4 separate regions of the Homo sapiens genome follow, and all the other regions are linked to region 4. Evidence: fine-mapped expression QTL. A gene starts in region 4. Each other region holds a variant in brackets. All regions are shown on one strand. Distances are between the middles of the regions.

The links.
Region 1: its variant is fine-mapped to the expression of ZDHHC3 in whole blood (TOPMed, PIP above 0.99).
Region 2: its variant is fine-mapped to the expression of ZDHHC3 in whole blood (TOPMed, PIP 0.94).
Region 3: its variant is fine-mapped to the expression of ZDHHC3 in activated CD8 T cells (Schmiedel 2018, PIP 0.95).

What each region holds. Positions count from the first base shown.
Region 1 is chr3:44,875,876-44,883,875 of GRCh38, reverse strand. All of the region lies in intron 1 of TGM4 (transglutaminase 4), which reads right to left. Among named protein-coding and RNA genes, the nearest start is that of TGM4, 5.3 kb to the right of the region's middle. The variant A/T (reference allele first, on the strand shown) is at 4,567.
Region 2 is chr3:44,911,256-44,919,377 of GRCh38, reverse strand. It overlaps TGM4 (transglutaminase 4), which reads right to left. Exons shown (of 14, transcript NM_003241.4): 13 at 7,972-8,108; 14 at 4,388-5,794. The coding sequence ends at 5,653. ZDHHC3 (zDHHC palmitoyltransferase 3) reads left to right here. Exons shown (of 7, transcript NM_001135179.2): 7 at 1-4,117. Among named protein-coding and RNA genes, the nearest start is that of TGM4, 41 kb to the right of the region's middle. The variant G/A (reference allele first, on the strand shown) is at 4,010.
Region 3 is chr3:45,165,878-45,174,016 of GRCh38, reverse strand. No RefSeq gene overlaps it. Among named protein-coding and RNA genes, the nearest start is that of CDCP1, 24 kb to the right of the region's middle. RefSeq lists a silencer at 6,197-6,316 and enhancers at 5,877-6,840, 6,841-7,804. The variant A/G (reference allele first, on the strand shown) is at 4,477.
Region 4 is chr3:44,972,483-44,980,621 of GRCh38, reverse strand. It overlaps ZDHHC3 (zDHHC palmitoyltransferase 3), which reads left to right and starts at 4,448. Exons shown (of 7, transcript NM_001135179.2): 1 at 4,448-4,689. It overlaps EXOSC7 (exosome component 7), which reads right to left and starts at 4,378. Exons shown (of 8, transcript NM_015004.4): 1 at 4,288-4,378. The coding sequence starts at 4,344. RefSeq lists silencers at 4,412-4,481, 4,602-4,701 and an enhancer at 4,924-5,468.

The sequences.
Region 1 (8,000 bases), 97 kb after region 4:
CCATGGAAACTGGGCTTTCATGACTACAAAATAGGTGGAGTGGTCACGCCCACATCAGATGCCTACCTTGGGGATGCGGCCAGTGATGTGTTTGGAGACAGCACAGCTCATTCTTGCTGGAGTGGCTTTGGGATTGGGGTCTGGACAAGTGTTCTCCAGGAAGGCAAGTCCCAGCAAGTGGCCTTCCCTTCACACTGCGCACAGGGCCTGGGAACCTGCTGCCTCCAGCAGGGAGGCCCACCTGGCAGACAGACCTACCTTCCCAGGTGCTTCCCCTTCTTGGGCTGAAACCTTGGGGTGGGCCGATGGCTAGCTGGAGCATCTTAGCCCATTTGTGCCACTGTTATGGAATACCTGAGACTGGGTCATTTAGAAAGAATAGAAATTTATTTCTCACAGTTCTGGAGGCTGGGAAGTCCAAGATCAAGGCACTAGCATCTGGTGAGGGCCTCTTGCTGCATTGTAACATAGCAGAAGGCAGAGGGCGAGAGAGGACCAACTCCCTCCTTCAGGTCCCTTTAGAGGGGCACCTCATCTCATTCACAGGGAAGAAGCCCTTATCACCTAATCAACTCTTAAAGGCCCCACCTCTTAGTATCACCACATTGGCAACCCCTGAATTTTAGGGGGAGACATATTCAAACCATAGCATGCTGTCAGGAGCTGCAATCCTGAAAGGCTTCTTCATTTCCCTGGACAGCAGAGCTCCTGCTGTGGGACCCAGAGCCAATCGCAAAGCAATCACAGCTGGAAAAGGGCTTTAACAGTCCCTCCCATGTTCTGACTTATTCCTGCTCCCCCATGGACTGGGCAGGTGGGTGACCTGGGTTCCCAAGGGGTAAAGGTATAGGTTTTGGTACCAGGAAGCAGGAAAGAGCAGTTAAGAAATCCAAATCCTAAATGCAGTCATCTCTGTGGAAGCTTCTTAAGACCTTATCTCCCTGGAATGGTAAACATAGTCCCTCCCTTGGTGGCTAGTGTGCACATTGAGTGCCTGGCACATGCCTGGCACACAGTAGGCACTCGACAAAATGCAGGCCATCATTAATGTTAGGCAGATGGGCATATAGTGGGTTGAATGGTGGTCCCACAGAAGATATCTCCACCTGGAGCCTATGAATGTGACCTTATAGAAATAGGGGATTTTCAGGTGTGATTAAGGATCTTGTGATTATATTATCCTGGATTATCCAGGTAGGACCTAAATCCAAGAATAAGTGTCCTTATAAGAGACATGGAAAGGCAAGGGGAGGGTCATGTGAAGATGGAGGCAGAGACTGGAGTTACACAGCTGCAAGCCACAGAACACCTGGAGCCACCAGAAACCAAGAAAGACAAGGGAAGATTCTCCACTGGAGGCTTCTGCAAGAGCAGGACCCTGCGGACATTTTGATTTTGGATGTCTATCTTCCAGAACGAGAGAATAATAAATTGCTGTTGTTTTAAGCAGCCTCATTTGTGGTCATTTGAATGCCCTAAGAAACCAACATACAGCACATAACAGATGGCCAGTACTGGAGCCTCCTCCCTCACCCTCTCCTGGGCACTGCTCTGTGACCTGAGCACTGCTTAAGGCAGATCTGGGAGGCTGGAGGAATCCTGGAACTACAGGAAGCCACACTGGGGCTGTCTTTAAAAAAATGCCTTTGGAGTCACATACCTGTAATCCCGGTTACTCGGGAGACTGAGGTGGGAGAATCACTTGAGCCCAGGAGTTTGAGGCTGCAGTGAGCTATGATTGCAGCTGTGAATAGCCACAACACGCCAGCCTGGGCAACAAAGTGAGACCTCAACTCTAAAAAAAAAAAAAAAAAAAAAGCGTTTGTATTTTTATTTTGTAGCTATTGCACTTGGATAGATGGTCAAAATTGATATACCAGTTTAATGCTTGCAGTGTCATAAATGCAAGATGACCAGGGAAACCTGCAAAGAAAAAGTGTCAGTGGAATACAATGTCCTTGTTTCTTGCCACCAATGTGTGGGTTGGAGTTTAAATTATTTGAGTATTAAAAAACAAAAGTCTCTGCAATGGATAATTTTTGCTATAACTTTTGCCTATGAAGCCTCTGGAAAAAAGGAGACAACATAAAAGACAAGCAATCTCCAGATGGCGATATACTTTTGGAGTTTTAAAAAGCAAAGTTGCTTTTAAACTAAAATTAGCATTAGTTGCTAATGAGCTCTTGTGAAATTGTCAGCCTTAGAAGCTTATGATTTTCCAGTCTGTATGTATATTTTTGAGTGGGTCAAGTGGGACTCTTGAAATGACAAGAAAAAACGCACTTAAGAGGATCTTGGTGACTTTATAAGAAGAGGAAGACCTGAGCTTACCATGTGATGCCCAGCACCACCTTGGGACTCCTCAGGGAGTCCTCGCTAGGAAGAAGGCCCTCACCAGATGCAGCTCCTCGACCTTGGAGTCTCAGCCTCCATAACTGTAATAAATGAATTTCTTTTCTTTATAAATTACCTGAGTTTTAGGTATTCTTTTATAAGCAACAGAAAATAAACTAATACAATTTCCTTCTCCTTCCTTCTGGTAAGGCAGTTTGATTATTAAATACAGCTTTCCCCAGAAAGGGACTGACCTTTTCTAGGCTGCTCAATGAATAAATGATCAGGACAAAAAATAGTGAGAGGTTATTTAAGATTACTTTGATTTTTTTTTTTTTAATACAGGGCCTTGCTCTGTCACCCAGGCTGGAGTGCCGTGGTGTGAACACGGCTCACTGCAGCCACAACCTCCTGAGCTCAAGGGATCCTCCCACTTCAGCCTCCAGAGTAGCTGGGACTACAGGTGTGCACCATAGTGCACTTCATAGTGGTGATGAAGTCTTACTATGTTGCCCAGGCTGGTCTCAAACTCCTGAATTCAAGCGATCCTCCTGCCTCAGCCTCCAAAAATGTTGGAATTACAGACACGAGCCACCACACCCGAACTACCATTTTGAAAATTTTTGAAAATTCAGGATTTTGTCCTGACCAATTCCAGAATATGATGTGTTATTCTGGTTAGGTTGTATTAAAATATTTTTCTGTAAAAATGCTTTTGTCCCTCTTGCAAACAACCATTCCAGATGAAAGGTCTGGGTGAGAATAAGAGATTACTAAAAACAAAAAGAAAATAAAGTTATGATTGCTGAATGAATGAGATACACAGAGAAAAAACATGTCACAACTAATTGCTAAAGGAATTAAACACATCCTGTGTGACACTGGAGAGGACTCTTGGAAGACCTGCCTAGCTCCCTCAGGACCTCACCCCAGCAGGCTTTTCCCTTTGCTGATTTTTCTTTGTACTTTTTGCCACAAGAAATCACATTCCCCCACCCCCCAGTGTCCATATTGCTGCCTGAGTCTACTGCCACCTGCCAGCAGGCACTCCTGGAGAGTCTCCTTCCCAGAGTGCTTGTGGGAGCACAGCCCCTGCAGAATGCATACCGGTTATGAAAAATTTCAAACATCACCTCTTTCTGTAGAGGTCTGGGATTCCCCCATACTGAGAAAGTAAAATAAACAGTTGTCCTTGGCTCATAGGCAGAAACTGGCTCCTAGTCACAGTTGTCACTGGTTTAGGGGATAAACGCCAATCTTCTTTGGAGTAATTCATTCTCCACCAAAGTTTTATGGCATTCCCACAGATAAAGTCACACTCAAGGTGAGCTTATAGCCCCAAATTTTAAAACACAAAATACACTATTTCAGCAGAAACCACACAAGTATTCGTCCAAGAAATCAGATAATATACAGACTATAAAATAACGTATATAGACTATGGACCAGGCACAGTGGCTCACGCCTATGATCCCAACACTTTGGGAGGCTGAGGCAGGGGGATCCCTTGAGCCCAGGAGTTCAAGATCAGCCTGGGCAACATAGAGAAACCCTGTCTTTAAAAAAAAATTATTTAATTAACTGAGAATGGTGATGTGCACATGCAGTCTCAGCTACTTGGGAGGCTGAGGCAAGAGTATCTCTTGGGCCTGGGAGGTCAAGGCTGCAGTGAGCCATGTTCACACCACTACACTACAGCCTGGGTGACAGGGTGAGACCTTATTTCAAAAAATAATAAATAAAATAAAATATTAAAAAATATAGGGCCGGGCACAGTGGCTCATGCCTGTAATCCCAGCACTTTGGGAGGCAGAAGTGGGCAGATCACCTGAGGTCAGGAGTTCGAGACCAGCCTGACCAACACGGTGAAACCCCGTCTCTACTAAAAATACAAAATCAAAATTAGCCGGATGTGGTGGCAGGCGCCTGTAGTCCCAGCTACTTGGGAGGCTGAGTCGGGAGAATGGCGTGAACCTGGGAGGCAGAGCTTGCAGTGAGCCGAGATTGCGCCACTGCACTCCAGCCTGGGCGACAGAGTGAGACTCTGTCTCAAAAAAAAAAAAAAAAATTAGCCAGGCTTGGTGGCACATGCCTGTAATCCCAGCTACTCGAGAGGCTGAGGCAGAAGAATTGCTTGAACCGGGGAGGCAGAGGTTGCAGTGAGCCGAGATCACGCCATGGCACTCTAGCCTGGGCAATAAGAGTGAAACTCCATCTCAAAAATAAATAAAT[A/T]AATTAATTAAATTAAATAAACTATATATATATATATATATATAGAGAGAGAGAGAGAGAGAGAGAGAGAGACCATAAAATAGCCAAGTCAAAAATGGCTAGGGACCTAAGAGAATAAATCAGAATGATGAGAAAGGAATAAGCCACTATTAAGAATGACCAGATAAATTTTTTAAAACATAACTTCTAAAAATGAAAATATGGTTCTCAAAATGAAAAAAACTCACAGGTTAAACAGCAAATAGACATAACTGAAAGAGAATCAGTGAACTAGAAAATAGACTGGAAACAAATACCTATAATACAACCTAGAGAAATATTAATAGAAGTAAATATGAAAAGCAGTTTAGAGACGCGGAGTCTTGGATGAAAAGGGCTAAACTATATACTATAGTTGTTCTGAAAGGAGAGAATCAAGAATGGGGAGCAGCAGCGAAGAGGTGATGGTTGAAAACTTTCCAAAATGAATGAGAGACATGAATCCTCTTATTTAGGAACCACAAAGAATCACAAATAGGATAAAGAAGAGGCCAGGCGCAGCGGCTCACGCCTGTAATCCCAGCATTTTGGGAGGCCAGGACAGGCGGATCACTTGAGGCCAGGAGTTCATGACCAGCCTGGCCAACATGGTGAAACCCCATCTCTACTAAAAATAAAAAATTAGCTGGGTAATGTGGCGCATGCCTGTAATCCCAGCTATTCAGGAGGCTGAGGTAGGAGAATCGCTTGAACCTGGGAACTGGAGGCTGCAGTGAACCGAGATCACGTCACTGTGCTCCAGCCTGGGTGACAGAGTGAGACCTCATCTCAAATAATAATAATAATAATAATAATAATAATAATAATAATAATAATAATAAAACAAAAGTAATAAATGCCCATTACAAAAATTAAGTTTCTCTCCCATCCCAGACTCCCAGATCCTTTCTCCAGAGAAAATCACTATAAAGTATCTAGGTATCTTTCCAGTTTTCTCTGCCATAAACCATTACTTTAGTTACAGAAACAGGAGCTTTCTCAATACACTATTCTGCGCCTTGCTTCTCTCTCTCTCTCTCTTTTTCTCCCTCTCTCTCTCACACACATGTCTTGAAATTTATCTCCTAACCACCCAAGTAGATCTTGTTATTATTTTCTTTTAATTTTTTTTTCTTTTTTTGAGACAGAGTCTCATTCTGTTTCCCAGGCTGGAGTGCAATGGTGTGATCACAGCTCACTGCAGCCTCGACCTCCTGGGCTGAAGCAATCCTCTCACCTCATCCTCCTGAGTAGCTGGCACTACAGGCATGCATCACCACACCCAGCTAATTTTTTCATTTTTTGTGAAGAAGGGGTCTCCTTATGTTGCCCAGGCTGGTCTCAACCTTGTTACTTTTTAGTAGCTATTATCCCCCTGGATGGACATGTAGACCATTTAAAATCTTATATGCTACAATGTACTTCCTTGTACATGTATCTTTGCACTCATGTGTGACAATATTTGTAAGAGAAATCTTCCAAAGCAGAATTGCTGTGTCACAGGATATGGGCATCTTTAATTTCAGCAAATGTTGCCAGAGAGCCTTCTAGCGACTGCACCAGTGATACTCCTACAAAAAGATGAGAAGATGCCTTTTTAAAGCTATTTACTATTAAACTTTTAATCTTGGCTAATCTGATAAATGAAAAAATGAAATCTCATTGCTGTTTTGCTTTTATATAACCTTTTTTTTTTTTAAGAGACAGAGTCTTGGCCTGTCACCCAGGCTGAAGTGCAGTGTTGCAATCATGGCTCACTGCAGCCTTGAACCTGAGTAGCTGAGTAGCTGGAACTACCGATATGCACCACCATGTCTGGCTAATTTTTATTTTTATTTATTTATTTATTTTTGAGACAAAGTCTCGCTCTGTTGCCCAGACTGGAGTGCAGTCTCAGCTCACTGCAGCCTCCGCCTCCCAGGTTCAAGCAATTCTCATGCCTCAGTCACCCAAGTAGCTGGGATTACCGGTGTACCCCACCACACCCGGCTAATTTTTGTATTTTTTAGTAGAGACGGGGTTTCACCATGATGGCCAGGCTTGTCCCTAACTTCTGATCTCAAGTGATCTGCCCACCTTGGCTTCCCAAAGTGCTGGGATTACAGGCATGAGCCACCTTGCTGGGCCACGGCTAATTTTTAAATTGTTTTGTGGAGACAGGGTCTCACTATGTTTTCCAGGCTGGTCTCGAACTCCTGGGCTCAAGCAATCCTCCTACCTCAGCCTCCCAAATTTTGGGGATTATAGGCATGAACCACCATACCTGGCCTGCTGTTTCAGTTTTATTTCATGACCACCCTCGTTACAAGTAAGGTTGAGCATCTTTTCATATATTACAATTTATATTTCTTTTTCTTTGAACTACCTAATACTGCTCTTTGTCCATGTATATTTTGGGATGTTGGTCATTTTCTTATAGATCTGAGAGCTCTTTTTATACTACAGAACAGCATTTGCTTCTCATATGTGTTGAAAGTACCCTTCACAGTTCCATTACCTTCTGACTCTGGAGGTTTTGTCTTACACATATTTTTAATTTTTCTGGAGTCAGTTTTACTGTTCTTTTCCTTTATGTTTCTAGGTTTTCTATTTTCCTTTGTAACACCTTCTCTACTCTAAGATTATTTTTCATATTGCCTTCATTTTCTTCTATTGCCTTTACAGTTTCGTCTTCGACCTTTCTGGGATTCGTTGTGGGATAAGCCATGAGATAGATATCTGGCTTTGTTTTTCTCTAAATACTAACCAGTTGTCCTAATACCATAAAGTGCACAATTTCTCATTTCCTCCATTTATATGAAATCCTACCTTTATCCCACACATATCACCATCTTCCAGGTCCCTATTTGGATGTCCTGACCTCCTAGAGTGGTTGGAAGAACAAATGAAATCATATTCATGAAAACACCATGGAGTCATCACAACTTGCTAATGTTGTAAGGTGGCATGTGATGGTTACTTGCACAAGCCCATCAGAAAGGACACCTCAGGGAGCGTCAGCTCCCCTCACCAACACCCCAACACTGGTGGCCAGGAGATGACTGTCTTTGGTGATTTAGACCTTGAGAGTAAAGTCAAATTGTGCCCAGCAGGGAGGCAGCATAGTGTGGCATGAAATGAACACACGCCGGGTTTGTGTCCCAGCTCTGCCACCCATGGCTGGGACCTCAGTCAAGTCATCAAACCTCCCCAGTGAACAGGTCACACCTCTTGAAAATGACAGTGTGGGTCAGGACTACCTTTCCTTCAGGTAGTCCTCAGTAATTTATATAGTGCTTTCACGGGATTGATGTAACCTGCCCAAAGCCACAGGGCTATTTAGACATGAATCTTCTCTCAAATCAGCAGGTGCTTCCCATCACACCACACCACCCTTTCTCAGTCCTAAGGACTCTGTACCCTCCAAGACTGAGTCT
Region 2 (8,122 bases), 61 kb after region 4:
GTCCTTCAGATTGTGTTTTTGATGTTTTTCTCATGATTAGATTGAGGTTAGGCATTTGGGGCAGGAGCACTGCTGAAGCAATGTGTCCTCGTTGCACCGTATCAGGAGGCATATGGTGTTGATACGTTTCATTATTGTGATGTTAACTTTGATCATTGGGTGAAGGTGGTACGTGCAATGTTTCTTCCCTGCTATTAAGGTACTGTTTTTCCCTTTGTAATTGATAAGTATCTTATGAGGATATACTTTTGAGATCCAATTTTTTTAACTTAGAATTTATTCAAAAGTCAAGAATCTTAAATCTCTGAAATGGCGTGGGAAGAAAAAGTGCTAGATACACAGAGATCTTTCTTGAGTCATGTGAAGGAGCAGTGCCCAAGCCCAGCAAACCCACAGCAAATTCCCTTGGCTTCCAGAAGAGATGGAGAAAGCAGTGCCCCCAGTGGAGGGTCAAAGGCCTCTGTGCAGGGTGTTGTGGGCCTGGAGAGCTGGCCTGGCCATGTCTTTACCTCCTCTGGGCATCTCCCCACCCCAACACCCTTTCTGTGGCCTGGTGGCTGAGTTGCAGCCGACACCCAGAGGCAGGTGAGTTGACAGCTTGGAAGAGGCTGCAGGGTGGATCTGCTGCATGAGCAGGCCTGAGCCCAGCCTTACCTCCCCACAGTGGTCCTGTGTGCCCTCCGGCTGCCTAATGCATGTTGGCACTTGCTGTACGAGCACCCGCTTCTTCACCTCGCATGCTGTTTGTGTCCTGCACTCCTTCCTTAACCCCATCGTCCTTCTGCTGTGTTTGCAGCCCCTATCTACCCTGGTGGGAGTGGCCAAAAATATTTAGGAGGGGATCACCAGTTTGTAGTGGCCTCAGAGGATGTGTGGTCCCCCTTATGCCTCAGCCACTCATCAGCCTAGCCCCTGCCCATCATCTGGCATTGCACTTGTGGAAGGAAAGAAGGGGAGGGCTGGGTGGTGGGTGGAGAACACGTCAGTCCACCAGGCGGGCCCTGCTTGCTGTGTTCCTCCACGCTGCTGTCCACCCACACCCCAGCAGTCCTCTGAGGGACCTCCCGGGGGTGACCTGGGCCACAACAGACTGCCCACTCAGACCCCATCTTACCCATGCCGTGGACACCCCGCCCCCCCCCCCGCCACTGCTATGCTATAGCTGGGGGTGTCTATGTGAGCTGTACAGCCCAGCACCACGCTGACGATGTTCTTCATCCCCTTCTCCCTGCAGGGCATCGAGCGCCTCAAACGAAAGAACCAGCCCAGGGAGCACATGGGGAGCTGGCAGTCAGTAAAGGAGACCTTTGGTGGGGACTTCTCCCTGAACTGGTTCAACCCCTTCTCCAGACCGTGTCAGCCAGAGATCCCCAGTGACAAAGACATGGTGCGGCAGGTGACATCGCTGTCAGACACCGAAACAATGGAGGATCCATCAGAGGAGACAAAGGACGAGGACTCTGTGGAGGTGACAGATGAATAGATGCTGCTGTGGGGAGAGAAGCAAACACTAAAAAGTGCTGTCAACCTTCATCCTGGGGTTTTGGCTAAAGGGGCTTATGGGCATGGTGCGCTCCCAGCACCCCCAGTGCTTCCCTTAGCCACTCGCTTGGCCTTGCCATTTCCCCTCCTTCTTCTCTCCATGTTGGGCCAGGTCTGGGGGTCGGGAGTAGGCTGGGGACATCAGAGGAGGATGGGGGCTTTCTCAGAGTTCATCTAAGAAGAGTCTGCACTGAGACGGCTCATCAAGAACCGTTCTCCAAGACTGGGTGGCTTTCACATTCTCCGCCCAGCAAAGGGAGCTTTTGAACAGGGCATCCCAGGGGCAGAAAAGAGCTTGCCTTTGGCTTTCCCCAGGATTTCTGTCTTCTCTTGGGAAGGCTGGGCCCCTGGCTCCTGGCTTTGAGAAGTAAGGTTGTGACAGAAGGACCGGGCAGGGCTTGCCTTGGGGACCTGGGTTGGGACACTGACATCAGGGGAGACTAGCCTGGAAAGACTGCAGAGCTGCCAGCTACTCCCTGGAAAGGGCTTCCCCATGCTGCCTGCCGAAATTAGGAGGTAGAGGTGGCTGCCACATCTACCTGCAAGGGCCAGGCATGGTTCAAAGAGGACCCTGCATTAAGCTCTACACACACATGTGCAGGACATGTCCAGCATGGACAGAGCCAGAGTTAAGACAGTAGCACCGAAAATGAGCCCCCATTCCACAGACACTGGAGTCTTCACTGAGCGAGACAGCTGGGAGCTGTCCTGCCTGTGGCTACATATCTAGCCATTCACAGATGTGGATATGGGAAGGACCTCTTTGGAGCTACTGGGGACTCCCTAACCACTCGCATGAGAACTTAATTGAATGTTACCTCTTGGAGGGAGTCTAATAACACATGTAGGTAGAACTGACCATAAACCCTGCCTGTGTGTTTGAAAAGGCCAGTTCTCCCAAATTGGTGCCCATCTTGTCTCTGAAAAGATGGGTGATGGCCAGGGTCTGCTGATTGATGAATCAGATGAATCAGGAAGATAGACAAACACACACACACACACACACACCCCACCAGGATGAGTCTGCCCTCTATTCACCCCATTTGAAGCCTGTGGTGTCTGTGACCACTGCTGAAGGTCTGAGCAGCGTTCTGGTGCTCCTAAACCCCATTCCAGTGGTTGCTGAAGCAGCATCTTCTGCACAAAGCCCAACAGAAGGGTTCTTATCCCCGTTTGGTATAAGAAGTGGATTCACCACCCACTCCCTCCACGTGCCTTTGTTCCTCTCTTTGGCCCATTTCCCCAGCGTCTACTGGCGTCAGGATTGGCAGGAGCACAGGCACTCAGCAGAGCATGCCCCTGCAAGACCTCAGTGTTAGGGCCCCCCTTCCAGCTCCAGGCAAAAGGGCATGAGTCCTGGCCCCAAGGGGCCTGTGGCTGCAGTTCAGAGGAGAAGAAGGTCAGTGTTTGGAGGTGCAGCCTCAGGATGCTGAGAAAGGAAACTGGCGACCGTGAGAAAGAAAAGAGCCAAGCAGCATCCTGGTTCTTGGACAGCATCTTTGGACACTCTGTGAAGGGCAACGATCCTGCCAGAGACCGTCTCTCTACAACTGATGACCCACTAGGGCCTGGGGTTAATTGCTCAAAGGGCCCAGTGTTCACAAAGCCACCTCTGCCCTAACCCTTGCCAGAGCTCTCCAACTATGACCCACGAGAGGGGTGATGGTGGGATTCTAACATCAACAGAGCAACCAGAAAGACATTGGGCCTCCCACACTCAGGCTGCAGGCCCACTTTCTTGGTCCTTATCAGCTTTAATATTTATTAATGACGACATAGGAGCCCGAGTCAGCTGTAAAGGCCATTAACTTGCAATCTGGACAGGAAGTTGACGCTCACCACTTTGGGTAAGAGCTGCTCTGACTGTAGGGCCCCCTATTTGTTGTCCTAACCCAGAAGCAGCTCTGGGCTGCCAGGATGGTGGATGGAATACCAGAGAGTTCACACTAGGGAGGAAGCAATGCCTGCCCCCTGGAGTCTCCTAGGGGGCAGCAGTTAGAATAAGGGAAGAGGATTTGCTGGTCACTGTTTGCTGACATGGGTTTCCATGGTGAGTTCAGGCCTGAGGACAGCAGTGTCTGCAAAACCACATGGCCCTTGAGAAATGTCCTTGCACATTGGGCTTCAAACTCCTCTTCTAGGGAATCCATCTTGGCCTGAAAGCAGAGGTACAACACCAGCCCCAAAGGCAATTCTGTTTTCAGATTGGTTGCTCTGGAAAGGAAGGCTGGGGTGAGGGGGCATTTTACTTGCACAGAGGCTGACCCTGCCTCCCCTCTTCACTGACCCCATCTCCAAGGTAGACCTCAGCCATGTCAGTCCCTGTTCTGGGAGGTGCTGGGCTGGGCCACAGCCAGGGTTATGTAGGTAATTAACCTGTCCAACCCTGAGCCTCGCCTCCCCACACCAGCAACACAGTGGTCTCTCTGTGGTGACCATTCACAGCATAACATTCTGCTTAGCCTCA[G/A]ACTGAAAGCATTGCAACTGATGTCAAAACCAGATGAGATCTTACAGGGAGAGAGATTGGGTGCAATTTGCCTCTTTCTTTGAATAAAAAGCTCTTTGCTCACCCTCAGTGACTGGAGTCTCCTGTTTTAATTAAGAGATCCCAGCTCAAACCCTTGGGCAGTGTCCTTCCTTATGGGCCACCCTAAAGGCACCTCTAGGAAAGCTACTTTTCTTCCATTCCCAGTGTGGGAGACAAGTGAGTGTCATACGGCACCACACAGTGGCCGTGCCGGGCTATATCACCTCTTGGGATCGGACACTGTGCTGTGGAGTGACTGACCAAACTCTTGTTTGTGTCACCACCCTTGTGGTATTTCCAGCAGAAGGAACAGTCACCTTTCCTTCAATAAACATTTATTGAACACCTACTGTATGCCAGGGATGTGGGCAACTTGGGCAAGGGTGACCAGGATTGAGGTTTTTTTCACTTGGACAGCTGGAAAGGCAGAGGATGACAGGTATCCCACCCATGACTCTCCTGTGAATTAGACACAAAATAACCCTCATTCAAGCTACGTGCCTTTGCCAGGGTGTGTATCCAGTTGGGGTGACAGCCTTTGAGAGAGGGGTTGGATGTACTGAACAGACAATAAAGAAGCCAACTCCTCAGAGCACCTTGCCTGGGGAGATCAAAGGATTCCATGGCTCCCCAAGTGACTGCATAAACCGCCAGCACATTTAAGAAGCTTATTGGCATAAAGAAAAAAGGACTCAGGGACCACAGAGTTTTCTTGAAGTAGAGTTTAATTTAAAGCTTATTGATCATTTGAGCAAATCTCTGGAGGGCAGAACAAGAAGGAGCAGGCTTCAGTTAACAGAAGCAGCCTTGAGTTGCCAGGATAGTGGATGGAATACCAAAGAAAGAGTTCACACCAGGGAGGAAGCAATGCCTTCTCCCTGGAGTCTCCCAAGGGGCAGCTTTAGAATAAGGGAAGAGGATTTGCTGGTCACCGTTTGCTGACATGGGTCTCTATGGTGAGTTCAGGCCTGAGGACAGGGTTGTCTGCAAAACCACATGGCCCTTGAGAAATGTCCTTGCAGATTGGGCTTCAAACTGCTTGGAGCACCAGGAGAGGGACTTCCTGGATTTCAGGGATAGAGAGAGGAGAATGGAGGCAATAGGAGGAGAATGCACTTCTATCAGGCCCATCCCAGTGCTGAGAGAGCACTCCAGTTGACAGGTGCCTTCAGGGCTGGTGAACCCATGGCCTGAAGATATGGCAGCTTCTCAAGGGTCGTCAGCAGGTGGCAGCACTGGGCTGCCCATAGTCTGCTGCTCCAGGGAGAGACTCTGTGGCTTCGAAATCTATGGATTTGAATTGAGACAATGGTGGCCCTGATTTTTGAGGCCATGACTCAGGAAAGGGATGGGATTCTGTGGCCTCGGCTGGTGTTTCTAACTGTAAAAGAGGTGACCCTGTGATAGCACAGGACCTGGCCTTGTGGGTCTGGCTGCTTATGGTTGTGTTGGCCTTTTTGACCTGCTGGCTCTTGAATCTGCCCTCATATAAGTCATCAAATTTAATCATCCATAATCTGAAAGCTAAGCACAAGGTAGGAAATGCTGAAATCTCAACTAAGGCTCCACAGCATCAGACAAGGCTACTTGGTGATGAGAACAATCTTCTGAGCATTAATCTCTTTCACTTGTTTGGAACTTAACTTGACGATAAATTTCTTGGGTCCAGTTTTTATTGGGGTGCATTTTATTTGGGATTGGATGGTCTCACCAGGCTGCACCGTCCTGGAAAATTCAAAGACATACGGACATACAATCAGCCAAGGATGTTATGGGAAGAGGGAGAAGATGAGTTGGGTGAGAAGCCAGGAAACTGAGCCTTAGCTCAGCCTCTTTGAAAAGTCCTGGCCATTCCAGGGCATGGCACAGTGTACCTGCACCCTGGGTGCTGCTATCAGTTTTCTCAGATGTAAAGCAAGACGGGTGAACCAGCTGGTTTCCAGAAGCTCTTCCAACTCTGACATTTCACAAATCTTCCCTGGAGTCTTGCCTGACTTTACTACAGATGTTCTTGTTTCATGAGTATTAGCAACAGTCATCTATTACATAAAATCTAAGAGGAACATGTATTTTATGTTGAATCCACATGCAAGGAATTGGCTAGCCCCTCACTACTCAAAGTGTGTTCTGGGGCTTCGCAATACTAGCTGAGCTTGTAGGAAACACAGAATCTGAGGCTCCACCCTAAACCTGCTGAATCAGAATCTACACTGTAACAATACTCCCCAGGTAATTTGTGTGCACATTAAAATGTGATAAATCGTGGTCTAAGGAAAATAGGAGTCTACTCATTTTTACTTGGAAGATTCAGACATCCTGTAAGAAACAGACCATCAGAAACCTCTCAGAAACAAAACATTAGAGTTCAGTAAAGTTTTTTGCTGGATATATCAGCATGCCAAAAATCAATTTCCATATAGTCCAGCAAACAATTAGAAAATACAATGAAAAATATTCCATTCATAAAAGCTATAATATTGATGCATCTTGGAATTAACCCAACTAATAACGTGCAAGTGGTATATAAAGAAAACAATATAGCTTTTCTAAAGGTGATAAAAAAGACTGGAAAAAAATGGGAAAATCTCATATTCCTAGATGGCAAGACACAATATTGTCATTTGGCATAATTCTCCCCCAAATAAATAGGTAAATTCAATGCAGTATCAATCTAAATCCCAGCTGTTTTAAAATTATATGACAAGATGATTCTAAAAGTGCTATAGACAAAAATGGGGGTGGGGTGGGGATTTGCCTAATACATATCAATATGTAGATATGATAATCATATAAAATTATTATAGGACTACAATAATTTAAGTGGTATGATGTTATATTAGAAGAAGACAAATGAAATAGCAAATTAAAGAGTCCAGAGACCCAGATATATATGGGAATTGACAGCATAATAAAGGCAGTGCTACAAAGTACTAGGAAAACCACAGACAAAGTTGGAGCTCCACATCACTCCACACCCAAAAAAAATTCCAGATAAATACCTAATTGTGTAAATAAAGCTGGAAATTCTAGAAAAAGCATAAGAGAATATTTCTATGCACCTAGGATGACATGAAATTCAGTATCCGTAAAGGAAAAGATTGAAAAATTTGACTACATTAAAATTTAAAAGTTCTACTGGTGAAAGACATCTTAGTGTTTAAAAAAATACAAACTGTTCGGCCGGGCATGATGGCCCATGCCTGTAATCCCAGCACTTTGGGAGGCCAAGGCGGGCAGATCACCTGAGGTCAGGAGTTCAAGACCAGGCTGGCCAATATGGGGAAACCCCGTTTCTACTAAAAATACAAAAATTAGCCGGGTGTGGTGGCATATGCCTGTAATCCCAGCTACTCAGGAGGCCAAGGCAGGAGAATCACTTGAACCTGGGGACGGATGGAGATTGCAGTGAGCCAAGATCGTGTCACTGCACTCCAGCCTGGGCAACAAAGTGAGACTCCACCTCAAAATAAATAAGAATCAAATTTAAAAAATTGAATACAAAACTGCTATAAAAAAATTCACAGCACATAACACTCTACTGTGTAAAGACACCATACCAATATGAAAAAATAAATGACTCAGTAGAAAAATGGACAAAAGTTAGGAACAGGCAATTCACAGGAGAGAGTCAATTAATGTAAGAAATATTCAACCTCACAAATAATCAGATGCAAAGTAAAGCAATGAGATTACTTAACCACTAGATTGGCAAGAATCAAAAAGATCTGTCGGTAGAGCATAAATTGATGCAATCTTTTCTCAAAGTAATTTGGCACTAGCAAAATGTATCTACATTTTGACCCTGTGACCCCATACTGGGAATTCACTTCTCAGGAATATGCACACATGTGCAAGATATATGTCCAGAAGCATATTTCTAAGAATACCTCAGGCAGACTCACCCATGGTCAGAGGTCTGTAGTGAGGAGATGCCCAGGCTTTCCAAAGAGAACTTGACGTCAGTCAAAGGGATGGCCAGGGTATTCTTGAAGATACAATTGCAGACAAGTAGCTGGCCAATTCTGCCTGTGTTAGGCAACTGTAGTAGGGTGG
Region 3 (8,139 bases), 190 kb before region 4:
ACTTAATTCTCAGGCTCAGCCAAAACACTCTAAGGGAGTAGAGGTGAAATATTTCCTCCCTTACACAGCCAAGGCTGCCATCATGTGCTGGGTTCTTTCACATCTACCAAAGCAGAAGGTCAGACTCAGCAGGAAGCCATCATAAGATGGAAGTGGCACCTCCAAGATTAGGTCCAAGCAGGGCCAGAGGGCACAAGTCACCTGTACAAGCAGATGGACCAGACCTCATGTCATCTGCACACTCTGGCACCAGGACCACCCCTCCTTCCTTCAGGCCACACCAATGACCATGAGTTGGGGGCTTGGGTGGAAGGCTGCATTTGGTTCACAAATAACTCAGCCTAATTTGTGGGTGAGGGCCAAAAATCGACCACAACTCCATCCAGGGGCAGCCCTGAAAAGCAGCAGGGAAAGAAAACCCTCCCCATAGAAAGAGAAGTGGTCTTAAATTAGAATTTACGCAGGTGTGCAGGCAGCAGAAAATGGCTGCGCTAGTTCCTCAGGGGCCCAGAAGAGAAAAATTGGAAGAAAGAGACTAAGGAGGGCTGGGAAAGAGGCACCTGGATGGACCCTCGGGAAGGGGCACAGCGTGACCTGCAAGACAAGAGGATGGGCCCACAGGAATGGGCACCAAATCGTATTGCACAGCAATGTCCACCACAGAGCACCCACTACAGGAAAGGCACTGAACAGCCACATGGTCAGAGTGACTTTCCCAGCCTCCATCACTGGCCACATGGGTACATGAACAGAGTAGTTACCGCAGAACAGTGCATGCTACCACTAGCTGGGTTCTTTCACACGCATCAAGGCAGAACGGATGGAGGATTGCGCATGGGCTGGACACCATAGCCTTCCACTCTCCAAGGTGATGCAGCAACTGCCACTATCCAGTGTCTAACCTGACAGCCCCAGAGACCAACACTGAGGCCGAAATGGCAACAACCCTTAGGGAGCCGAGCCAGCCTTTCAGTGACTAGTTCAACATTTGAACCCTTCCACCTTGGAAGGAGCAGCAATTCACTCTGGGTGGAATTGACCCATACTGTGGGCATGGATTCACCTATTATGCCCACAGACCTTGGCCAGCACCTGCAGAATATGTGGTCTACCAATACAGGATCCCATGTAGCATTGAGACAAAGAGACCTACTTTGCAAAGGCAAGTGACCATGAGGTCCCTGGTGATACCACGTCCTCATCCTCTAGAGGCCAGCCGGAGGTGGAATGGTCACTGAAGGTCCAGGCAGCCAAAGCACCAGCTGGAGAGGGCGCTATGTATCCTGACACTCTAAGTCAACAGGCATTGTATGGTACTGTGCCCCTACCCCCTGAGAGGAGTGGTTCACCTGGAAATCAAGGGGTGGAAGCCTGAGTCGCCCCACTTACCATCACTTCCAGGACAAGATCTCTTAACCAGTTTCAATGTCCCATTCCCACAGCTCTGTGGTTTAGAGATCTTGGTTCCCAGAAGAGGATACACTTCTACCAGTGACACTCTGAGGATTCCATCAAACTCCTAGCTATGGCTGCTTTCCAGTCACTTTGGGCTCTTTGTGCAGAGAGACCAGCAGGGAGAAGAGCCACCATCCCATCGTGGGTAACGGGACCCTGGTCATCAGGAGAAAGCAGGGTTGCTGATTACACAATGGGGGCAGGCAAGAATATGTTTGGCACTCGGGTGGTCCACTGGGGCATCCCTTGGTTGTCCTGACCCCAATTTATTTTTTTATTTTTATTTTTATTTATTTATTTAGAGATGGAGTTTCACTCTGTTGCCCAGTCTAGAGTGCAGTGGTGCAGTCTTGGCTCGCTGTAACCTCTGCCTCCCAGGTTCAAGCGATTCTCCTGCCTCAGCCTACCGAGTAGCTGGGATTACAGGTGCCCACCACCACACCTGACTAATTTTTGTATTTTTGTAGAGATGGGGTTTCACCATATTGCCCAGGCTGGTCTCAAACTTCTGACCTCAGGTGATCCACCCACCTCAGCCTCTCAAAGTTCTGGGATTACAGATATGAGCCACCACGCCCTGCCTAAGGTTTTGTTTTTCTATAACTCAACCCAGCTTCCACTGAAGCCCCATTCTGCTGCAGTGGTAGATGTCTCCCTTGGAGCAGAGTCCAAGTTTGGGAGCATCATTTGCACCAAGGCCTTTCAAGAACCCTCCAGAAGTTCCATCCTCAACACACTGACCCTTTCTAGCTTCTAGCCCTCAGAGAAAACCCCACACTCCCCAAGGCCCTCCCTAAACCCTTTCTCTCAGCCCCAAATCTTTTCAGTCAAAAGTTGTGAAGGGGAGAGAGGGGCAAATGTGGCCCAGGGGATTCATTTGCAGCCTAAATTTTTAAATTAGTTATCAACCTTTACAAATTAAGGAATTTCACATGAAATTTTGTATTTTTATGCTTTTCTAAAGAGATCAGTCTATCCTTCAATTTCCTCTGGTGGCACTGGCTGTCGCGAGAGGGAGCCACCTCCTCTTGCTTTAGTTTTTCCAGTGGTCCAGATCTCTCCACTCTGCCTTGCTGCCTGGAGCCAGGGGCTTTGGCTTTGCTGCCCTGAGCTCCCTTATGGGTGCAGGGTTGTGGCTTTGGGAATACAGGTTTGTTAGTCACTTCTTTTTGCTGAGGCAAAGGTTGGGGAGTGAGTGACGGTGATGAGAGGGAAATGCTAAGAAAGCTCTTTGAGCTGGGTGGTGAAGACTGGATAGGAGTGAGAAAGTAAGGCGAAGGCCGGGCACGGTGGCTCACACCTGTAATCCCAGCACTTTGGGAGGCCAAGACGGGTGGATCACTTGAGGCCAGGAGTTTGAAACCAGCCTGGCCAACAGGGCAAAACCCCATCTCTACCAAAAAATTAAAAAATATGCCAGGCGTGATGGTGCATGCCTGTAATCCCAGCTGCTCGGGAGGCTGAGGCGTGAGAATCCCTTCAAACCAAGAGGCAGAAGTTGCAGTGAGCAGAGATCACATCACTGCACTCCAGCCTGGGTGTCATAGTGAGACTCTGTCTCAAAAAACAAAAAACAAAACAAAACAAAAAAACAGAAAGTAGGGAGAAGCAGAGAGGGCGTCCCAGGCAGAGGAAACCACCTGAGCAAAGGCCTGGGGGTACCCCTGCTGGGAGACCGTGAGGGTACCTGTCTGATTAAACGATGGGTTTGACATTATGCTGCAGTGGGGGAAAGGCTGGGTAGGGAAACTGGGGACAGAATGTAGACAGTAAACTTGACCTAGTCAACTCACAAGCTTGTGGGCAGCTGGAGGCAGAAAATGATTGACTTCTCCAAACATTTTGTGTTTCTGAGTGACTTAATGGGAAGGAAGTGGGTTCATTCCAATCTATCTTCTGCACCCAGATCTGTACCAATCCAGAAGGCAACTTGACCCAACCAGCAATTTTGCCTAATATTCTGTTCAGGGCTCTATGTTAGGTACAAAGAAGAGGCGTACAACAAAGGCCAACAGTGGGGGTTGAAGACCTGTCTGCAACATTCCTCCTAGGAAATGGTAGAGTCTCATTCCCCTTCCCTTGACTATGAGTCCCTTTTAGTGACTCGATTCTAACCAATGAAACACAGGGGAGTGACATTGTGTGACTTCTGAGGCTAGGTCATAAGAGAAAATACAGCTTCCTCCTGTCTGATGTGTTCTCTCTCTCTTCCTTTCTCTCTCTTGGAGCCCAGCCACCATGCTGTGAAGAAGCCCAGGCCATAAAGGGAGGAACACTCGTGGGTGTTCCAGCCAGCAGTGCCAGCTAAGGTCCCAGCTGGCAGCCAGCACCAGTCACCAGCCATTAGTGAGCAAGCCTCGGAAGATTCCTGCCCCAGCCTTCTGGCTGCCCTAGCTGATACCACAGAGGCAAGCAAAATAAAGCCCCTAGGTTTTGGAATGTTTATTATGCAGCATGAAGTAACTGGAGCACAAATACACAGAGCCAGGCTCTAACCCAGCCCGGGACAACTGGGAACCAAGCACGGTATATGGAACATCCTAAACATTCCTCAGCTGACAGGTGTATATTCCGCTGTTTTCAGATGGAACAAAATCAGTTCTGAGCTGTGGCACCGAGCTGTAGACCCACATATAAACGATGTGCCATCCAGGTGGGGGAAATGAAGGAAGGCCTCAGAGGGGAAGCCGTTTTGACCACACTGTGGAGGATGAGGAAGACAATTTCAAGAGAAAAGGGCAATGCAAATCACAGACACTGTGAGCTGGACACTGTGGCCTCAGGGCGCTCTGGTCAATCCCTGCATCCTCTGTTAAAGATTGGCAGTACTGACCCCTGCACTCAGGCTTCCTATGTCCTACTGGGCATGTCCCCTCTTCAGGTCACCTAGAGGCTGCCCTCAGCTCTCCTCTCCCTGACCTTTAGGGTAGGAGGGATTTGACAGAATTTGATGTTCGTCCACCAGAGGTGGTCTGTTGACTGTTGAGTGATTTCCACAGAACTGTGTATTTTGCATTCCTT[A/G]TCTTTCCATTCCCCACCTAGACCCCTGCAAGGCCCCGCAATTTCTTTTCACCCACTCACTGCTTCGTTAGTGCTGGAGTTAGTCAGATCTCATCAGTCCCTCCTCGATGGCTCCTTCCCTCTTGTTCCACTGCTGACAAAGGGGCTTGCTCTCCACCAGCCTTCCCTGTTGGACTCTGTGCTTTGGAACCAAGTAATTGTTCCATTACTCATTACGTTTTACAGTTATAAATGCAAGACAAGTCCATTACAGAAAATGCTGAATCAAGAAAAGAAACTACACACAATCTCATCACCCTGCCCCGCCATCAATAACCATTCATCTCGTCTTCTTTGAGGATTTTTTTTTCAACACCTATAGCGTTTTTAAAATCCTGTTATAGCCGGGCACGGTGGCTCACACCTGTAATCCCAGCACTTTGGGAGGCCGAGGCAGGCAGATCACCTGAGGTCAGGAGTTCGAGACCAGCCTGGCCAACATGGCAAAACCCCATCTCTACTAAAAATACAAAAACCAGACATGGTGGCTTACCCCTCTAATCCCAGCTACTCGGGAGGCTGAGACAGGAGAATTACTTGAACCCAGGAGGCAGAGGTTGCAGTGAGCCTACATGGCGCCACTGCACTCCAGCTTGGGTGACAGAGCAAGGCTCCATCTCAAAAAAATAAAAAATAAAAATAAATAAAAATAAACAAACCCTCTTATCATACTGCACATTCAATTGTGAATGCTGAGTTTTGTCTTTGGTGTCACAGTGCATGCTTTTTGTCATCATTTTCTTTCCTAATGAATACGTAGTGGTGTCAAGTGGCTGAACCTCGTTTTCTTTAACTATTTTTACAGTGTTTGGCATCTACGTGGTTTCCAGTTTTTCCCTGCAGTAAACATCTCCCTGCCTAGGGCTTTTTCTGAAAGCTGAACTACTTCCTCAGGACAGATTCCTAAGAGAAATGACTGGGTCAGAAGTTGTGGGTATATTAATGGCTCTGGATATAGACCACTTGTCAAATTATCTCAGCGACTTGTTTCTTTGAACTGTGATCTTGTAGTTAATGCTGTTGTTGTTCTGGAAGTATTAGATGACCACTGGAGAAAATTTGGAAACGTTGAGAGAAGTGAATAAAAATCAATCTCATTTCACCCATAAAATGATAATCATTATCAGTAACATGTTGGTGTCTTCCTCTCCAGTCTATTTTTCTTCATGTAAGTTTTAGGGTTTTTTTTTTTGTTTCAGTGCCTATATGAATTAGCATAATTATCATGGCACTCTAAATAAATTAGACTTCATAATTTTTCTTGAACATAACAGCTAAGCATTTTCCACTTTATTGCAAACTTCAAACAGTTTAAGATATTTTCCACTGAGTAGATGTATCCTCATTTACTTTCCCATTATCCTATTTGGGGACACTTACACTGATTCCAAATTTTTGCTCTTAAAAACATTTGCCAGGAATAAATCTTCAAGTTCTGACTTAAAAAGCAGTTTGTAAGTTGGGTAAACAGAAAAATGATGAAAACTTACAATAGAAGAGTTGACTAATTGGTCTTGATTGTGGAAAAGGCTAATTTCTAAGCTCCTTCCTAGATTCATGAATGGAATTTAAATAACTAAGCTTTTTTTTTGTTCGTTTACAATCAAAGCAAACCCAATGAAGATTACTGATTGGGAGCCCAGACACCTGGTTTTCTGGTGGTTTTTCCCTCGGACAAGTCACAGGCCTGGCCTCTTGTGACTTAGTCAAATGCACAGTCAGACTAAACGGTGGCGGCACCGGCGCTGCAGGGCTCCCGGCTGTTTCCTTTTACCAACCCACACCGTTGTCAAGGGCGGCGCCTTCGTTAAGCATTCCTCAGTCACCGCGGTGAAGTTGCCATTTGCTTCCTGCCTGACTCTGACTCACACAGCAGCCTGGGGCACAAGTCCTACCATCTGTGGGCCTGGGCCGGCTGGCGGCACAAAGAGGAGCAGAAAGTGTGCCTCGATGCGCAGGACATGAAAAACAAGTGATGCCGCTTCCTGTGTGCAGACATGGAAAGATAAGGAAGAGGCTTATGATGTTGGAAAAGAAAACAACAGCGGCAACAGAAACCAAACCTGAGGGCAAGACAAACAGTATATGCTATCGTTTGTATAAAAATAAAATAGAGAGCCAGATATGCACATACCACCCCCGGTCCCCCCAAAATAAAGAGCTCAATGGCAGTGAAGGGCTATATAGTCACCACTGGCAACTGCAGAATGGATGCTTATTGTTCCTCAGAAAATTACTGTATTTCCTGCGTGACTCAGAGTTCTGTTCACTGCATTGGTCGGTTGAAAAGTGACATAGGCTTGGGTGGAAGGAGTGAAGCCAGTTCCCCAAACACTTCCTTGGTACCCAGGCTGACCTGTGGTGGAGACATCCTCCCCCAACACCTGTGCCCATTCCAATGGCAGACAGGCAGTCAGATGCAGGCACACTGAGAAATGCAATTAGGAGAGAGAAGGAAGGAGAGGGAGAGAAGGGAGACAAGGGGTGCAGCTAGAGAGGGAACAGAGTGAGAAAAAGAAAGAAACTTTGGCCATCTTTTGAACAACCATGACAATCTTGAGGAGTTTTGGTGGTGCTTCATTTAGGATGAGCTTTTAATGGTCCTATTCTCTAAAGGCAGCCTCCTTCTCAGGATGTCCTTACCCTGAGCAGCTCAGAAAATCAAGGGCTGCTGCAGCCTGGCAGCCTTTTGCTGGGGACTGGTCCTGCCTGGAATGGGTCTTGAGACCCTGGGTTGGCCTGACCTCCAGTCCTAGCCCTGTTCTTCCAGTACAGTAACAAGTGACCTTGGCCCATGATCATGGCTGGCCACCGCCCAGCCTCTGGGAAGGCCTCAGCCCAGGAGCCCCCATCTGCTCACCCACTGAAATGGGCCTCTCCCGCTCCCCAGTGAGGCCTTGGAGCAGAGCCACTGAGAACCCTGAGGCCCTAGGAGAGAAGAGAAGAATTAACAGGGTCAGTTGTTTCCAGATGTCTCTTACTTATGTCAGGATTAATCTTTTTACTACAGAGCCATTAAACTGGACAGAACACATGGAGAAAATGCATATAAAGCAGATGTCCTGGATAACAAGGAGAGGAGGTAAGAACCACGAGGAGAACATGGAGTGGACAGAAAGCACTGCCCAAGGATGACACACATGACAGGAGGAAGCAGGGACCCTGAAGGCCAGCCAGGCTCCTGAGGCTTCAACTCTACCGCTTCAGAATCTTCTGCCAGCAACTTGACACTAGTTCCCTGTATTAGTCTGTTCTCATACTGCTATAAAGACATACCTGAGACTGGGTAATTTATAAAGAAAAGAGGTTTAATTAGCTCATGGTTCTGCAGGCTGTACAGGCTTCTTCTTGTGGGGAGGCCTCAGGAAACTTACAATCATGGTGGAAGGTGAAGGGGAAGCAAGCACATTTTACATGGCTGGCAGGAGAAAGAGAAAAAAAGAAAGTGCTACACACTTTTAAACAACCAGATCCCCAGATAACGCTAGCACAAGGCAGCGCTAGGGGGATGGTGCTAAACCATTAGAAACCGCCCCAGTGATCCAATCACCTCCCACCAGGCCCCTCCTCCAACACTGGGAATTACAATTTGACATGAGATTTTGGTGGGGAAACAATTCCAAG
Region 4 (8,139 bases):
TCCCTACTGAGGAAATGGAAGAAATGACTTTCACTGCAGCAGGAAGGTGGCCTCAGAGTCAAGTATGGGCTTTGCAATCAGACAGGTCTGGATTTAAATCCCAGTGCCACCACTCAATTACTGTGTCACCTTGACAAGCGACTCAACCTGCCCGAGCTCAGTTCCTCATCTATAGAGATAACATTTACCTTCAGAACTGTTGTAAATATTCAATGAAATAAAAATTATAATATGTACCTAATAAGAATGGGATATAGCCTTCAAAGACTGAAAGAGAACCTAACAGAAACCAATCAAATTATTTATCAAAATACCGATTTAATCCACCTTTTTGATTCTCTGTTCTCCCCTGGGAGAGGGGATCTGTTCACCAGGTTGACTCAAATTGTATCACCTAGACTCCCTTTGCTGGCTTCTGGTTGGGTTTGTCCAGTGGAAGATACCAGATCAGAGGGTGCCCCTCACCCCCAATCTAGTGGCCACATTTCTGATAGTGCCTGCATCTATCGAAGACTATGACTTATGTTGGGCAGCCCTTCCTCCACAGTTCCAGCTATCACTGAAATGTGGTAATACTGTTTCCTCCCCTGGCCCCTTTGGAATAGGGGCAGTAGCCACTCCCAGTAGTTGTCTTGGGGCTCCTCAACATCTCTTATTGGTTCCCTGAAACCCCCCCCATACTGCTCTAGAGTCCCATCATAAAAGTCTCCTGAACTACCTGAAGAGGGTTCCATTTTCTGCCAATAACTAAAATGATCCACCCTCCCTTCTCACAAACTGACTTCTCCCAAGTGTGACACATCCTCTAGTGGCCATGTTTGAGCCTAATTATTCTGTCCATCCTTTCCCTCAACCCCCTAAAAGAACTAGAGTTTCTTTCTCTTGGAAACATGAGTTCAGAACTGAACGAGAAGGAATGGTCTCTTTTACAGAGGAACTGGGAAGGAACCACATTTTTTCTACCACTGGCCCAAGAAATAGAAAACCAATCTGTAGGGAGACAAAAACAAAGCAAAGAGGGGGAAAAAAAAAACCAGCAGAGATTAGGATTCCTGGAGAAACACTTGCAGCCTTGTAATCCATACTGTTTTGCTTGAGCCGATGTGTTGGTTACCATTACTAGCAACTGAATCCTCAACACATCGTGAGGTTAATTTCAACTGCTTCTAACTATCACCAAAACAAGATGAAATATTCCCTGAAATAGTAAAAGAACCAAAGGCTGAAGGGAAAGTGACATCAGAAGCTGAAATGGACGTTACTGGACCAAAGGTGAAAAGTAAAACACAAAATGACTAGGACTATACAAGCAACAGGAGTTCAGGCAGGCACTGCTTAAGGTGCACTGCCGGCACTCTATAACCAACGCAACAAAAGTTTAGGAGATTTCAGAACTGAATCAGTTGAGATTCCATGGTAGGCTCATTCACCTGCATCCTGACCTTTATTTGGATGGTGTAAATTGTGTTTTGCTCCTCTATACATATGGCATATTTTGGGCCAACATTAATAAGCCCTTATGAAGACGTTGATTTGAAGCCCATTACTCTGCATGGCTCTGTGATACACAGAGCTGAGCATTTACCAACAACTGTGCCCAAATATGTCCATGGTACTGGTGAGAGGGAGGTTTAATTTAAAAAATAAAAACACCATCCAACTCATTCCCCCTTTAAAGCTTACATCACCCATTCAATGCTACTAAGAACCTACCAAGTGCTAGACACTGGCTATGCCTTAAGGGTCCCCCATACAGACAAGTCAACAGGCTATTGCCTTCCAAGATCCATGATGAGCGAATGACTGAACCTCTAAGACCTCTAGGATCGTGCTTCTGGCCACCTCTGCAAGCTGATCTTCCACCATTTCCCCCAGCCCACCCCTTGGGCTCCACATGTCCTCCACCTGAGGATTTACAGACTCACCACCCCTTCCTTCTGGAACACTGGTGCCTACTTAATTCTCAGTCATGCTGAGAACTCAGTTCAAATGCTATTTCCTTAGGGAAGCCTCCTCTGACCTCCCAGTCTAGATCGTGTCCGTTTTTTCCTTCATAGCATTCAGTACAATTTTATATATAAACACTCAAGTACATTTATAGTTTCTGCATCTTCCTTCTAGCATGAGAGCTATATAAGGACAGGTTCCTTCCTAGCCCCTGAGTCTAGCTCAGTTCTGTGTTGAATGAATGAATACTGAGTCCTGAAGATACAGAGGAGGAATCCTTGACATGGATTTAGGGGAGCAATTCCACCTCCTTAGGGAAGCCTTCAGAGCATTACAAGTCCCTGGAATTCTTTTTATTTATTAAAAAAAAATTATTTCTTTAGAGATGGGCTCTCACTGTGTTGCCCAAGCTGGTCTCAAACTCCTAGGCTCAAGCAATCCTCCCATCTCAGCCTTTCAAAGTGCTGGGATTACAGGCGTGAGCCACAATGCCCGGCCCCTGGTATACTTTAACTTCAACCTCCACTAACTATACCACTTCCTTGGCATAGATCTTACATTACCTTTGTTTTTATTTTATTCACTTTTACTCTCTGTTTGTCTCCCTCCTATCTTTCATTTATTTCACAACCATGTTTTGGCATCCCTGCTGTTTCCCACATAACATGCCAGGAGCTAGATATATGTTGGTAAATAAAATTAACTAATGACCATGGTGGGACTCTGCTGCTGGATAGCTAATGAACTGCCGTGGGAATTAAGGGTGCTGGGGAGAAAGCTCTAACCTTGAGGTTACAGATATATCCATGCCTCAGTGCCACTTTCAGGGATGAAATGTTGAGAGAAAATAGGACACATGACAGAGTCACTACATCATGGTAAGCTCCGGTAACAAAGAAGACCAAAGGTTTTTAAATTTAGAGGAAAACGGTTATCCGTAATGTGTCCCTAAAAAAATACTTTGAGGATAAAAATCACCTGAACAAAGTGTATACAAAAATATAGCAGGGAAAGACATATCTAACTGCTTTTGGGCATTTTTATGCCCCCTCACACACAAATAACATACATGTTACCCTGTAATACACACATATGTCCCACTGTTGTTAATCCTGAATTATAACTAAAATATGCAACTGTGAGTTCTGACTTTATTATCCAGGCATAATATGCTAAATATTGGCATTTCTTCATATATAAAGGGCCCAGAAGATAACGGCAGGTCACGATTTTTAAATGGACATGTCCTTAACTCACGTTGTGGGACTTCAATGATAGCTGGCCGCTTCAATCCGATGGCTACATCACGGGACCACTGACTTTGCAGTTGGTACTGACAGAGGAAAGGCATGAGGAAAAGAGGTAGGAGCTGTCGCCAGAACTCTGCCAAGGATGGGATGAAGAACTCTGATAGGAGGACCACACCGTAGGTTAACAAGTGGAGACACAGCCGGAGGAGGATACAGGGTAGCTCGTTACCAGGTCCAACATTTTTCAACCCTCGTTCTGGAGTGGTCATAACCAGGGATTTAATATAGAACACAGAGGACATTAGGTTATAGCTGCCTAGGGATCTTAGTTCTTCATTGGCAAAATGGAAACAGCACTTAGGCTATCGGCTGCCTAGCCGCTTTTTTTTTGAGACTCGGCTCACTGCAACCTCCGCCTCCCGGGTTCAAGCGATTCTCCTGCCTCAGTCTCCCGAGTAGCTGGGACTACAGGCGTGCGCCACCACGCCCAGCTAAATTTTTTTGTATTTTTAGCAGAGACGGGGTTTCACCATGTTGGTCAGGACGGTCTCTTGACCTCGTGATCCGCCCGCCTCGGCCTCCCAAAGTGCTGGGATTACAGGCGTCCTAGCCGCTTTTTAAAAACCCTTCCCCCTTTATTTGTACGGCAATTTGTATTTTCAAAGTGCGTTCACCTCGCATGCGCCCTCCTAACCACGAGGTGAGGAAAAGCAGGCCAGAAGCCCACCTCCAAACTCCCATTTCCTCGAAGAGAAAACTGAGGCTCGGACAAGATCTGTGCGCGAACGCCGAATGGATGGCCCTGGGGCCGATGCTCTCTCACTAAGAAAAGGCCTCCGAGACTGCCCAAGCTTCCTGCCCGGGTTCGGAATCTTATAGACCCGCAAAACTGCAAATGCGCTAACAGTCCTAAAAACGTCCACGTTGCCAGCTCTGAATTGCAAACGCCGGCAGCAGAACCGTTTAATCACAAGGTAAACGGAGAGTCGCCGCAGCTCGGCTGCCTCCTCACTGGCAAACCCAGGGCAGGCCGCGACCCGCAGGGCCAGGCTGAACCCGGCGGCCGACCCAACGCCGCTGCTGTAGCTACCTGGACGCCATGCACGATGTACACCTTCTCCGCCTCGCTCAGCGTCACGGACGCCATGCTGCCGAGCTGCCCCACGAGCCGCACGTCATCTGCGCGCGTCCCCTCCTCTGGACCGCGCCCCCACGTCCCACCCCCCCCCGCCCCGCGTCAGCGCGTCATCAACCTGCGCGGCGGCCGCTCCTGCAGCCGCGGCCGCCGCCACTGCCGGGAGAGCTCGATGGGCTTCTCCTGCGCGCCGCCCGGTGTCTGGCCGAGTCCAGAGAGCCGCGGCGCCTCGTTCCGAGGAGCCATCGCCGAAGCCCGAGGCCGGGTCCCGGGTTGGGGACTGCAGGGGAAGGCAGCGGCGGCGGCGGCGGGAGCCCCACCGGGGTCTGGGACTGGGGAACTGCCTCCGGCTTCACGGTCAGTTGGGAAGGGAAACTGGGGTAGGGGTGAAGAAGCTGGGGTGAGGCGAGCCTCACGGGCCGGGGGACTCCCAGTGGGAGAGGCGTGCGGCGTAGTTGCTCAGAGCTGGAGTTGACTTAGGAGCGTGTGTGTGTGTGTGTGTGTGTGTGTGTGTGTGAGAGAGAGAGAGAGAGAGAGAGAGACCCCGACTAAGGAGGGGCGGACGTCGTGATTGGCCCGGGGGTGCTGTTTCCCTGCTCTTCTCCCCTCCATTTCTCTAGTCCCTAGGATGGCTGGAGAGGCGATGCAGCCCTCCCTAGGTAGTTCTTGGTGGGAAGGGTCCGGGAATGGGGGACACTAGTCCTAAGGCGTCCCCACCCCTCCACCCAGGAATATCTCTCGCTGGCTCGCTCACTCTCTGTGACCGAACGCTGTCCCATTACCTTGCTGGGACCTCTTGCCTCGGGTGCTTACCAGAGCGTTGTCCCACAGACGGGGGAGGAGGCGCTTGGTAACCGGCACTGGCGAGGTGCGCAGTGCCCGGACGTCCCCAACGCTTCCTAGCGGGAACTGGAAACCCCGGCTTGATGGAAGTGATTACTGGGAGCTGTGAGCAGTTGCCCGAAAAAAAGCCAACCCCAACCCCTTGCGATGGCCGAGTGGGAGTATGGGCATTGGATACCCGGAGAGGATATCTGCAAGGTGAAGCTGGGGTCACCAAAGGAACTCATTAAGGCGGGGCTGACAAAGTATGGTGCAAGTTTTAAAGGAGCCGTGTGGATAAATGGGAGAAAGTTAACCCAAATTAGTTGAAGCAAGGAGGGCAGGTTAAAGCAATTCTGATGACTTTCCTGATGTTCCATTTTTGAGGACCCTCAGCCAAAAAAAAAAAAAAATGGTATTTATCAGATAGTGGGTTCAAATACAGTTTCAGATAACTATTGGGAGCCTACTATAGATAGGCTTTGTGCTACCTTTAGAACACAAGACAAGTAAAACATACTATGCCCAGAGAAGTTCCCTGGGCAGATGAAGGCTCCAGGGCCAACATAACCACAGATCATGGTGGTTAGAGCTATGATGGTCGCATCAGTGGGCACAGTGGGATTGGGAGGTCGTCTGATAAGGTTATAGAGAGGAAGTGCTTGCTCACATTCTTAAGCATTAAACTGCTGAGCTCCAAAATTGATGATCAGTTCTTCGTAGACTGGACATTAGATGTTTCTTATGTCTCTACGTAATTCTCCACAGGGGCACCTAAAAGGAAGACAGCTTGCAGGGTTGGACTTTGCCTTCCAGGGAAACTGAAAGAGGTGAAGCCGGAAGGATTTCCTCCCTAATGAAGGCACAGGTGCCCCACCTGTTGTGGCACTTAGATGTGTTTGTGTGTGGTTGGACGGCTGGGTTTTATGTGAGGAGCTCTGTTGTGATAAGATAACATGAGATTGCTGATGTTATAAATGATATTTTCTAGATGTGCTAGAGATTGCTCAGAAAGGAGAGACCCTGGAAGTGGGATTTTAGAAGCTAGGATATCTGAGGAGACTGAGGATTTAAGAGGTGACAGCAAATGGACAGATCAGAAAGACACAGGAAGAAAAGCCTGAGTTCAGATACCATGGAGTTATCTTTATATAAAGATTTTCCAATGTCTTAAAATATAGAACATGTATTTGAACTGTCCCCCCCTCACAATTGACGGGAATTCCATACTGGACAAGGGTCTGCAGTATTTGCTAAATAATGTTATGAACGATGTCTTATATATTAGGCTAAGTAGGTAAGAGAGATGTAAACAGTAGAATGTTCCTTTTTAAATTGTCTACTAAAACAATGACAGTCTTCACTAATCATTCGGCTTAAATGCTGCCAGAACATTTTTATCACCTTTGCTGTAATAGTGCATTGGACGTCTTTAAAATCCATAAATTCTGAGTTCTTTTTTAGTGTATTGAAGTAATTCAAAGAACATATGATAACCAAAAAAATCAAGAAGTCAAGGATGGCACAGTATTAAACCGTCTTGTTTTTCCATCACTATTAGATTCATTTATTGAATGAATAAATGAATTGGGGCATACTATTCTGTAGGTTTGTGTATTCTAAAACCTTATACTCTAATTTTCAACACTAATTTACATAGTGCTTATTGTATGCCAAGCATTGTTCTAAGCACTTTATAAAGATTAACCAGGCTAGGTGCGGTGGCTGACATCTGTAATCCCAGCACTTTGGGAGGCCGAGGCCGGTGGATCACCTGAGGTTGGGAGTTTGAGACCAGCCTGACCAACATGGAGAAACCCCATCTTTACTAAAAATACAAAATCAGCCGGGCATGGTGGCGCATGCCTGCAATCCCAGCTACTCGGGAGGCTGAGGCAGGAGAATCGCTTGAACCCAGGAGGCGGAGGTTTTAGTGAGCTGAGATCACGCCATTGCACTCCAGCCTGGGCAACAAGAGCGAAACTCCATCTCAAAAAAAAATAAAAATAAAAAATAACTGATTCAATCCTTGCAACAGCCCTGTGATGCAAGTATTCTTATCCCTATTTTACAGATTGGGAAATGAGGCACAGAGAGGTTAAATGCCTTAACCAGGGTCACAGGTTACATCATTGGTAAATGGCAGAACCAGGACTTGAGACCAGGCAGTCTAGCTCTCCTGCCCATACTCCTAACCATCACCTTACACAGCCTCCCCCCAGGTTTTATTACATTCACCAGATTATTTGGTGAAGGAAATCCCAATTTTGTTATGGCGTTGGTAACTGTCCTATGAACTATATAGTTAATCTTAATTCCAAAAGCAAGAAGTCTGTTCAAGCATAAACTCATATCCCTTGAATCATTTTTCTAGAGGAACATGGAATGTGGTGCTGATGGGATGTTGCTGTGTCTGTTGCAACCCAATATTTTAAACAAGGTAAAAGGTTATATATGAGCAGAATAAGAGCTTAACTCCAAGTAGCTAAGGAGAGAGCCCTCAATGGCAAAGATGGCTGATAGATCTGGTACTAGGGTTGAGTAGCATGCATGGAGACCCAGATTCCAACCGTATGCCATACTCAGATATCTAGAAACTCCAGACAGTGTGTTTGCATGCCTGTGAGTCCCTGGTGTTCTTATGGGCATAAAGAGATAAACTCAAAACACAACACCTGCCTAAAAGTAGTTTAGAATTTATTATAGTGGGGGAGCCCAGGACCTCGAACTACTGCATGAACAAGACAATAAAATAAAGTGCTCAATTGAGACGTGGCAATTAGAAGAGAGGCCAGCCTATAATAAGGTGCTAATTGTGCAGGCCAGGTATCAAATACAAAAGGTAAAGAGCTGCTGCTAGCCACAAGCCGGCAACAATAACATGACAGAGATGGAGTAACTCTGTCCCACCCATCCTTGGTTAATTAAACCAATAAAAGCCAGTTACAAAAGAGCTTCAGGGCAATGCTGAGTCTGTGGTGCTGA